Linked DNA regions of Homo sapiens. The protein of the gene in region 3 interacts with the protein of the main gene of each other region in a pairwise test. Each region holds a gene or a part of one and is shown on either strand. Other genes may lie near its edges. The genes, in order: ARPC3, CEP70 and NRIP1.

Region 1 (3,166 bases), on a different chromosome or scaffold from region 3:
CTTCCCTTGTGTCCTGCTTAGCAAAAGATACAGATATTGTGGATGAAGCCATCTATTACTTCAAGGCCAATGTCTTCTTCAAAAACTATGAAATTAAGGTAAATTACGGAGCTTTTAATATTTAACTTAGTTTTCTCATAGGGATAATACCAACCTTGCTATCCAGATTGCTGTGAGGAGAAAATAAAATGAAATCAGCATGTAATTTTTAAATTCGAGAGCAGTGCTTAATGTTAGCTTTTGTATAAATATTAGTTTCTTTTTTTTTCCTCCAAATTCTATACCAGGGGTTGGCAAACTCTAACCTGAGGGCCACATTTGGCCCACTGCCCCTTTTTATGAATAAACCTTTATTGGAACACAGCCACAACCATTTGTTTCTATATTATCTATAGTTACTTTCACACCAAAACAGCAGAATTGAGTAGTTGTGACAAAGACTGTATGGCCCACAAAACCTAAAAATACTGCCTGCCTTTTACAGAGAAAGTTTGCCAACCCCTTGCTAGAAGTATCTTTATTTATTCAACATTAGTTAAGCAGCACCTACTATGTGCCAGCCTTTTGTTTTGTTTTGAGACAGGGTCTTGCTCCGTCGCCCAGGCTAGAGTGCAGTGGCACAATCACAGCTCACTATACCGTCAACCTCCTGGGCTCAGACAGTCCTCCTGCCTCAGCCTCCCAGGTAGCTGGAACTACAGGCATGCACCACCACACCTGGCTAATTTTTTGTATTTTTAGTAGAGACGGGGTTTCACAATGTTAGGCAGGATGGTGTCTCGATCTCCTGACCTCATGATCCGCTCACCTCAGCCTCTCAGTGTGCTGGGATTACAGGCGTGAGCCACCGCTCCCGGCCCTAAAATGGAATTTCAGCCCCTCCTTGCCAAACTCTGAACTTCTGGAATCAAACAGGTTGTGAATTATTTATTTGTAGACTCTTGGTGTACAAATTGTAGTCTAAACATTCTGTGATGGTAATAGAATGTTTTCTATATCTCATGTGTGGGTTAAGTTTGTAACAGTTATAAATGTTACAATTCTCTGGGCACATTGCTTGAGTTCAGGAGTTCGAGACCAGCCTGGGCAACATGGCGAACCCCCGTCTCTACAAAAAATAGAAAAATTAGTGCATGGTGGCTCACGCCTGTAATCCCAACACTTGGGAGGCTGAGGCGGGTGGATCACATGATGCCAGGAGTTTGAGACCAGCCTGGCCAACAAAGCGAAACCCCATCTCTACCAAAAATACAAAAATTAGCCAGGTGTAGTAGTGCATGCCTGTAATCCCAGCTACTCGGGAGGCTGAAGCACAAGAATTGCTTGAACCCAGGAGGTGATGGTTGCAGTGAGCCGAGATCACACCACTGCACCCAGCCTGGGCGACAGAGCAAGACTGTCTCAAAAAAAAAACAAAAAACTCTGCCACATTTCATTTGTTCCCAGATACTATATTGTCTTAAAAATAGGGAAATGTGGCTGGGCGCAGTGCCTCTGCCCGTAATTTGGGAGGCCAAGGCGGGCGGATCACCTGAGGTCGGGAGCTTGAGACCAGCCTGACCAACATGGGGAAACCCCGTCTCTACTAAAAATACAAAATTAACTGGGCGTGGTGGTGCGTGCCTGTAATCCCAGCTACTTGGGAGGCTGAGGCAGGAGAATCACTTGAACCCAGGAGGCAGAGGTTGCGGTGAGCCAATATCACGCCATTGCACTCCAGCCTGGGCAGCAAAAGTGAAACACTCAAAAAAAAAAAAATATATAGGAAAATGGTGTGGTTTGGGGGTAATTTTTTTGTTGTTTTTTTGTTTTGAGACAGAGTCCCGCTCTGTCACCAGGCTGGAGTGCAATGGCGTGATCTCGGCTCAGTGCAACCCTCGACTCCCGGGTTCAAGTGGTTCTCCTGCCTCAGCCTCCCAAGTAGCTGGGATTACAGGCACGCGCCACCACGCCAAGCTAATTTTTGTATTTTTTGGTAGGGACAGGGTTTCACCACGTTGGCCAGGATGGTCTCGATCTCCTGAGCTCGTGATACACCCACCTTGGACTTCCAAAGTGTTGGGATTACAGGTGTGGGCCACCGCACCCGGCCTTTTTTTTTTTTTTTTTAATTCGAGACAGAGTCTTGCTCTGTTGCCCAGGCTGCAGTGCAGTGGTACAGTCTTGACTCATTACAACCTCTGCCTCCTGGCTTCAAGCGATTCTGTGGCCTTAGCCTCCCTAGCAGCTGGGATTACAGGCGCACGCCACCATGACTGGCTAATTTTTGTATTTTTAGTAGAGACGGTGTTTCGCCATGTTGCCCAGGCTGGTCTCAAACTCCTGGGCTCAAGCAATCCACCCACCTCAACCTCCCAAAGTGCTGGGATTACAGGCATAAGCCACTGCACCTGGCCTAAATTTGTGTAAAATTTGACCCAAAGTCCATACCACATTTGATCAACATTCATTTGTCTTCTCCACATTTTCTTTTTGGTTAGGTCAAGACATTGAGATTATGGAGTTCTTTGGGAGCAAGTCAAATGTGAAATAGTTGCTTCCTCCTTTAGAGTAATGACTATTTCTGTTCTCGGCAGAGACCCTGAAGGGAAGGGTTTTTAAAAATTAGCCAACCATATGGAGCAGTTCAGGCTTTCCAGGCAGCTTTGTTACTTCTTCCTATACAGTGAGGGGCTGTTGACACAGATCCTTGGGAACCCTGGGGCAAGGGGAGCCGAGAAAAACAAGAGAGAGCAGCCACTCAGCCGAGCGTGGTGGCTCATGCCTGTAATCCCAGCACTTTGGGAGGCTGAGGTGGACAGATCACTTGAGGTCAGGAGTTCGAGACCAACCTGGCCAACATGGTGAAACCCCGTCTCTACTAAAAATAGAAAAATTAGCCAGGCGTGGTGGCGGGCACCTGTAATCCCAGCTACTCGGGAGGCTGAGGCAGGAGAATTGCTTGAACCTGGGAGGTGGAGGTTGCAGTGAGCTGAGATTGTGCCACTGCACTCCAGCCTGGGCAACAGAGCAAGACTCCGTCTCAAAAAAAAAAAGCAGCTGCACATCTCAGAGTGGGGCTTGTGCCTTCCTCCCAGGGGCAGACGGAAAAGGAGACTGAGGAGACTGTGCATTTGGAGAATGGGAGTTTTGATGTGATAGTGGCTGTCCTACCACTGCATTCAGC
Region 2 (3,659 bases), on a different chromosome or scaffold from region 3:
CTACTCTCAGCTAATATATTTCTGTTACTGTGCATTTTAATTGTACATTTTATACTTCACAAGATCTCATTATGTAGTCTGTGTTTAAACTCGCCCATTTTTTTGCTCTATTTTTTTCTACATCTCTGCTTTTCCATCAGGGAGTCTTCTGCATGAAGCAGCTTCTTTAGAATTTTTTTACAGAGCAGATGCAATGAACACTCTCAGATTTATTTTGTGTCATGTGTTTGAAAATATATTACTTTTGCCTTTATTATTCGTTAATGAATGTTTTCACTGGCTTTGGAATTTTAGATAAGCAATTATTTTCTTTCAGCACATTGAAGATATTAGTGTCTAGGTATGACTGACTTTTTTTTTCTTTTTTCTTTTTTTTTTTTACTGTATCCCAGTTGCAATATGTTGGGTTTCTAGAATGTGTGGATTTATGTCTTTCATTGATTCTCAAATTTTTCTTAGCCATTAGCTCTTCAAATGCTCCTTCTACTCCATTCTTTCCTCTGTTCTTGGGTACCAGTTATGCATTCTGTGGTGGGGGGTTAGACAGGACAGAGTGTATGTGTGTGTGTGGTATATGTGTAAAATCCCAGAATGCTTTATTTCCAGAGGAGAACATTATAAGATAGGGTTTATTCAAATGAGTCTTACAATCAGCTATCTAAGAAGTCACAAAGTTTTGACGCAGGAATGACCTGAATTGCCCTGCAAGAGTAGTGGATTCTTTTAAATATACTTTTCTTTAACTCCTTTTGCACTTTTTGTCTTTTTTCATTTAGGCAACTCAAATTTTTTAATTGCCAATTTCTGTTTCTTTTGATTCTACAAAAGTAACTATGTTTCCGGTAGCCCCTAAACCCCAGGATTCCAGTCAACCATCAGACAGACTCATGACTGAAAAACAGGTAAACTTAAAATATTTTAAGACACTGCTTCTCAAAATATGTGCCAAAGAATGCTACATCTACAAACAGGAAAATTTGACTTTAAAAGGATTCTTTCTCAAATAATTTTAGGAAATGCTGGGTTAAAGACTATGAAATGGTTTAATTACTCTAAGACTTCACAATATTAGTCTCCAAAGGGAGGATTTAGTATACAGCATTTCATACATACTTAACACTAGTTTGATGAACATTTCATTAGACTAGTGTTCTGTAGCATGTACTTTGGAAAATGCCATTCCCAACTATTTTCAGAATTTACAATTACTTTATCTTAAAATGTAAGAGGTATCAGGAAACAATATGTATAAGTTAATCATTCAAAATATGTGACTTTATTATGTATAGAGCATTTTGTTTTTATGAGTTACAGTAGAAGTTCTGAGACACTAACTCAGAGCTTTTGGCTCCTAAAACAACATCAATGTTAATTTTAGTTGTGTCTACCACGTAGTTAAACTCTGTGATCAGAAAGACTAAAGCATAAATGAGAGAAAAGTTATGAGTGGGAGGAGATGTAAAAAAAAGGAGGAAGAAGTCAACAGTCAAAAAGAAAGACTTGTTTGACTTTGAGAGTGTCTTTCAGGGTGATTCTGTTAGAGTCAGTTATCCAGATGGACGGGCTCCTTTTTATAGTTAGACCTTGTCCATTTGACAAGGAGCTGTCTGAAATATTGGCTCCAACTAGTCAGGTATGTTTTGATTTTTTTGTGACCCTAGTCATTATGAAAGTGATACTTAGGGGCTGGGGCGGTGGCTCACGCCTGTAATCTCAGCACTTTGGGAGGCCAGGGCGGGTGGATCACCAGGTCAGGAGATCCAGACCAACCTGGCTAACACGGTGAAACCCCATCTCTACTAAAAATACAAAAAATTAGCCGGGCGTGGTGGCGGGCGCCTGTAGTCCCAGCTACTCGGGAGGCTGAGGCAGGAGAATGGTGTGAACCTGGGAGGCAGAGCTTGCAGTGAGCCGAGATCGTACCGCTGCACTCCAGCCTAGGTGACAGAGCAAGACTCTGTCTCAAAAAGAAAGAAAAAAGAAAGTGATACTTAGAAGTGACTCACCTTTTCTTTTCTTTACTATCCAGTTATTATAGCCTAGTTTACAGCTGTTTATTCTGAGCAGGGCTTGGTTTGGCTTAGTTAAATCTAAAACCTTAGATTTATTTGATTCACTGAAATTACAAGGTGTTTTTGTTGTTGTTGTTGGTTTTGTCCATTGAGGCCTACATATGAGTATTCTGTATAATGCAACAATTTGTGCTTATTTACATACTTCTAGTCTATTACTAATTTTGCTAGAAACAATAAATGTGTTTTTTGGATATTATATATGCATAAACATTTATACTTAAAACTTTTGAAGAAAAAGTTCTATTCTGAAAATGCAGGAAATTATATATGAGAGAATTTCTTCACTTTATATCTAAAGTTAACCCTTTCTTCTCTTTCTGTAATTGTAGCAGGAAGAAGCAGAATGGGAAAGCATAAATGTGCTATTGATGATGCATGGCTTAAAACCTTTGTCTCTAGTCAAAAGAACAGATCTCAAAGGTAATTAGATCCTATTCTTGATGCTTAAGGTAAAAAGTTTATTTTTCCTTAAAAAATTTTTTTTGCCTTTTATTTTTACTATCTGTATTATATACTTTTTAAATGTAGATCTCATCATTTTTGACAAACAGTCATCACAAAGGATGAGACAGAATTTGAAATTGTTGGTGGAAGAAACATCATGTCAACAGAACATGATACAGGAGCTTATAGAAACTAATCAACAGCTTAGGTGAGAAAATGGAAAAGATTTCTTTTGAATTGTTTGTATGCGTTCTAAAAATAACTGCCTTGAAAAAAATCTTGAAATTTAATTTCCCATTTTGATTAAATATTAAACTAAAAAATATTTTTGTAGGTAAAATTTTAATAGGTAAATCTTTTGGTAATAGCTTAGCATAGATGTTTAATGGTACCCTATATTTCTTCTATTAGTTTCTGTTGCAGGATGAGCATCTCAAATCTGAAAATCTGAAAGGCTCCAAAAATTGAAACTTTTTGAGCACCAACATGATGCTTAAAGGAAATGCTTATTGGAGCATTTTGGATTTTGGATTTTCAGATTTGAGATGCTTAACTAGTAAGTATGATGCAAATATTCCAAAATCTGAAAAAATCTGAAATATGAATCACTTCTGGTTCCAAGCATTTTGGATAAAGAGAATGCAAAGAAACTTTAGAAAGGCAATACATTCTTATATGGATATGCTTGGTAATTCGATTTATTTTTAATACTAAGGGAAGAAATTGTATGTCTATTAACTTAGAAATGAACTTCAGCTAGAGCAAAGCCGAGCAGCCAATCAAGAACAACGAGCTAATGACTTGGAACAAATTATGGAAAGTGTGAAATCCAAAATTGGTGAATTGGAGGATGAATCACTAAGTAGGGCTTGCCACCAACAGAATAAAATAAAAGATCTTCAAAAGGAGCAGAAAACTTTACAGGTACTGAGTTATGAATTCTTAGATGATGGTTAGTTAGTACTAAAACAGCTCATTATGGTCCCAGGTGACTTCCATGTTGTTTGATTCAGTGGTTTTTACCTTTTTTGGCTTATCACTGCTACCTTGAAATTCTCTTCACTTGGTTTCTAGAATGTCCTTTATTTCCCTCTGACCTCACTGATCATTCTCTAATTTCTTTTGCTGTTTTTTTTTCTC
Region 3 (3,425 bases):
TACTTATTGAGTATGTATGTTGCTTATCAATTACTCATTACCTATACACATACAGCATATATTTAAACATGTAAACACGTGTATATACATACACATTCATTTTTGGAAAATTATTAAACTCCTTTTTCTTTTATTTAAAATAAACCACACCCATTAAAAACTGGATAAAAGCCTTCTGATAAAGTCTTATCCTAAAATGAAGTGTGTATGTATATACATATAGTCAACATTAATTTTGAATACTGCACAAACTATTTTCTAGTTTAAAAATTTACAGTGATCAACTAGTTACACACTGAATCATGGGAGAAAGGCCATAGGCTGATTGTCACTTTGAGTTATGCCTTAATTACCCTGTTTCTAGTGCACTAACTTGCCAGCCACCTTCTTTTTTGTCCCCTTTATTTTTCTAAGAAGGGCAAAACATCCTTGAAGATCACTGTTATATTCATAGCAATGTGTTTTACGTTTATGGAAAACCTAAAAACCAGAGAAAGCCCACAAAATAACAGTCATTTCAAACCAGAGACAATGCATTTTTTCTCATTTATTCAAATTCACTGCAGGAAGTAAACACTAAAAGATTAAAAAACAAAACAAAAAAATTCACACTGCAGTATGTACAGTTTCATGACATCACATGAAGAAATTAAATTTCTAATAAAAATGGCAAATTATATTACTGAGCAGATCGCATCAAATTTGGTTGTGTAAACACCAGAATTCTTACTATGAATGGTAATGTGCCTATATTCCAGTATTGCTAATACTGGGATACTCTTGGAATAATGTTTGCAATGGGATTAAAAAATTCATGAAAGTAGTTGTGTGAATTCTTTATGTTTAAAAGTGGTTGACGATTAAAAAAATTCTTTAAGACCCTTCGAATCAAAGCACATTCTTTCACAAAGCTTAAACCACAGACGTCATGTCCAGAAATGGAATACTGTCATGTTAGGATGAACATCTGATCTGATTTGTTAAGACATTTTGCCAAATGCACAGATGCACAGGGTCCCCCATGCACTTTTCATGCAGCAGGTAATCACAACTTAAATAAAAGGTTTATTCTATACATTTGTCCAGACTTGCAACTGTATACATACATGCACAACTTTTAAACCTGTCTGATTATATTTACACTTATACATGGAATATACAGGAACCAAAGAGATTAAAAGGCTTTTCTGTTGCATTAGAACAATACAAAATATGTATTTTTCATTAAGGAAATCACTATTTACATCACCTTTAAAAACCGATTTTAACATCTTCATGTAACAAGTCAATATATATATATATACATATTATATATATATATATATATATATATATAAAATATATACTCTCACCAGTTTACTCTTCTGTAAGATGCAGCAGAGAATAAACAGGTAATGAATGCTACCTTACTGATGTCAATAAGCTGTAGTACCCTTTCACAAATGACTTTATTAGAAGAAATTGTCTAGATATCTAAAATAGTCCTTGAAAATGTGTATATGTGCATCCTTGTATCTACATATGCATAAACAAAGTGAATCTGTGGATGTATGCCCTTTCTCACTGTTCTTTAAAATCACCCTAAATTCAAATTGGGAACATTCTCTAGTAAATCAGAACAGCATTCTTCGTGGTCATGTTTATTTAAGTATTACATATTCTCATTCCTTTGTTAACAACAACGAAAACAACCAGCCAACCAAAAAAACAAAACAAAACCCACACACACACACACAAAAGTAGCAATGCTGGCCCTTGGTCTTTTCCCTGACCTAAATTTCACTCTCTTGTAAAAAGGTCATTTCCCCCTACCCAAGGGAGAATACCAACATATTTTTTCTGACATACCTCTAAGGCTCCAAACCTTCCACAACGATCAAGAAAAATGACTTGTTTAAAAGCTTATTTATATAGTGTTGACAATAAGATTGTCATAGTATGGACATGGAATAGAATATATTCAACTGGCCAGTGGAATTTTATGTCAGAATAAGCCTATGCCTTCACTTCTCCATGATGTTGCATAATACCCACTCCTATTACTGTATAATATTTCCAGTAGCTATTTACAAATCATTCTGAGGAAAAATAACCATTTAGGGTTTTAGATCATATTAGGAAATCACACCTATTTTTAATATAAAAATCTTAGAAACCACTTCAAGTAGAACAATTTTAAATCAATATCCTAACTAGTAGTGATTATAGAATAATTTTTGATAGGTCATTTGCTAACCTGGTTCACAATTAAGAACAAAATATCTGGTGAATGAATTGTGGATTGTACAAACTGAACATAAAAACAGACCTGTTTCGCAACTGAAACCCCATGTGGCTTCACTAATATATTAATTTCTTCTAAGACAGTATCAACATGTACTTTTCATCACTACTTTAAAGTAAAAGATCCAATGGAGTGATTGTGTACAATTCTGTCACGTATATGTGCCCTTTGTACTTTTTATTTAGTCAATCTGAGTTTAGTGCCCTTCTTGGGTTTAAACTAAATGTTGTAAGCTTTGTTGGCATTGTTCTTAGGACAATGGTTTTAATAAAGGTTAAGGATGCATTCAGGAGAAGTTTCCAAACCATCCTGGAATCACCTGAGTTTGGTAAGTGGCCCTGTTTTTCCATCCCTAAGGCTAACTAAGTAGATGTTACTCATTAGAACACACAAATAATCACAGATTTTCCTGAGATGTTGAGCCAGATATGAAAGTTATCCCCTCCACCCAATTTTTGTCATAAAAAGTGTTCTGAACCCGATTTCCAAAGACATAACGGTAATATATGAACTACAATATTGCAAATTTTGAGCTGATGTGTGACTGTATTGGGGAAAATAGAGGCATCACATAGTTTTTTGTTTTTGTTTTACAGTCTCATGTTCTGAGGAAAGTCATAAGTCATGGTTCTCAAACACAAGAAACACCTAGAGAGCATGTTAAGATGCAGATGGAAGATTCCAGGTCCACTTAGCAGAGATTCTTGTTCTGTAGATCTGAGATGCTGCCTATGAATCTGCATTTTAAAACAAGTGCTCCAGATGGTTCTAATGCAAGTGGTCTGAGTTCAGGTTTAAGGAATCCTGGTCATAACACTCGCAGGTACCACAGGAATGGTGAGAATTAACTTTTACAAGAGATGGTGAAAACTGTCCAAAGAAAAGCCATTTTGCTTCTGTTAAAAACAATTTCTTAAATATTCAACTTTTCAGGAAACCACCTAAAGATAAATGTTAACTTTTCTAATTCTGTAAAAGGAGGAGTATTAATTTAGTAAAGTAGTTAAAATACAAAAAATGGAAATCTGCCTTTTTTTTAAAGGATCTATCAAACTTCCCTCAATTGTAATCAATTTTTACTAAGTAGCACAAGGTTTAAAGAAATATATATTGAAAAGGATCAGGGTGGGACAGACACATT

The links.
Region 1: the proteins of NRIP1 (region 3) and ARPC3 interact in binary tests that used the Homo sapiens proteins (3 or more experiments, as listed by UniProt).
Region 2: the proteins of NRIP1 (region 3) and CEP70 interact in binary tests that used the Homo sapiens proteins (3 or more experiments, as listed by UniProt).

What each region holds. Positions count from the first base shown.
Region 1 is NC_000012.12:110,437,244-110,440,409, reverse strand, and holds part of ARPC3 (actin-related protein 2/3 complex subunit 3), read left to right. Parts: intron 1-21; coding exon 22-98; intron 99-3,166. UniProt on the Homo sapiens protein: Component of the Arp2/3 complex, a multiprotein complex that mediates actin polymerization upon stimulation by nucleation-promoting factor (NPF).
Region 2 is NC_000003.12:138,570,102-138,573,760, reverse strand, and holds part of CEP70 (centrosomal protein of 70 kDa), read left to right. Parts: intron 1-776; exon of another isoform or gene 777-828; 5' UTR 829-833; coding exon 834-902; intron 903-2,404; coding exon 2,405-2,495; intron 2,496-2,603; coding exon 2,604-2,727; intron 2,728-3,234; exon of another isoform or gene 3,235-3,262; coding exon 3,263-3,443; intron 3,444-3,659.
Region 3 is NC_000021.9:14,960,708-14,964,132, forward strand, and holds the end of NRIP1 (nuclear receptor-interacting protein 1), read right to left. Parts: 3' UTR 528-3,425; downstream 1-527. UniProt on the Homo sapiens protein: Modulates transcriptional activation by steroid receptors such as NR3C1, NR3C2 and ESR1. Also modulates transcriptional repression by nuclear hormone receptors.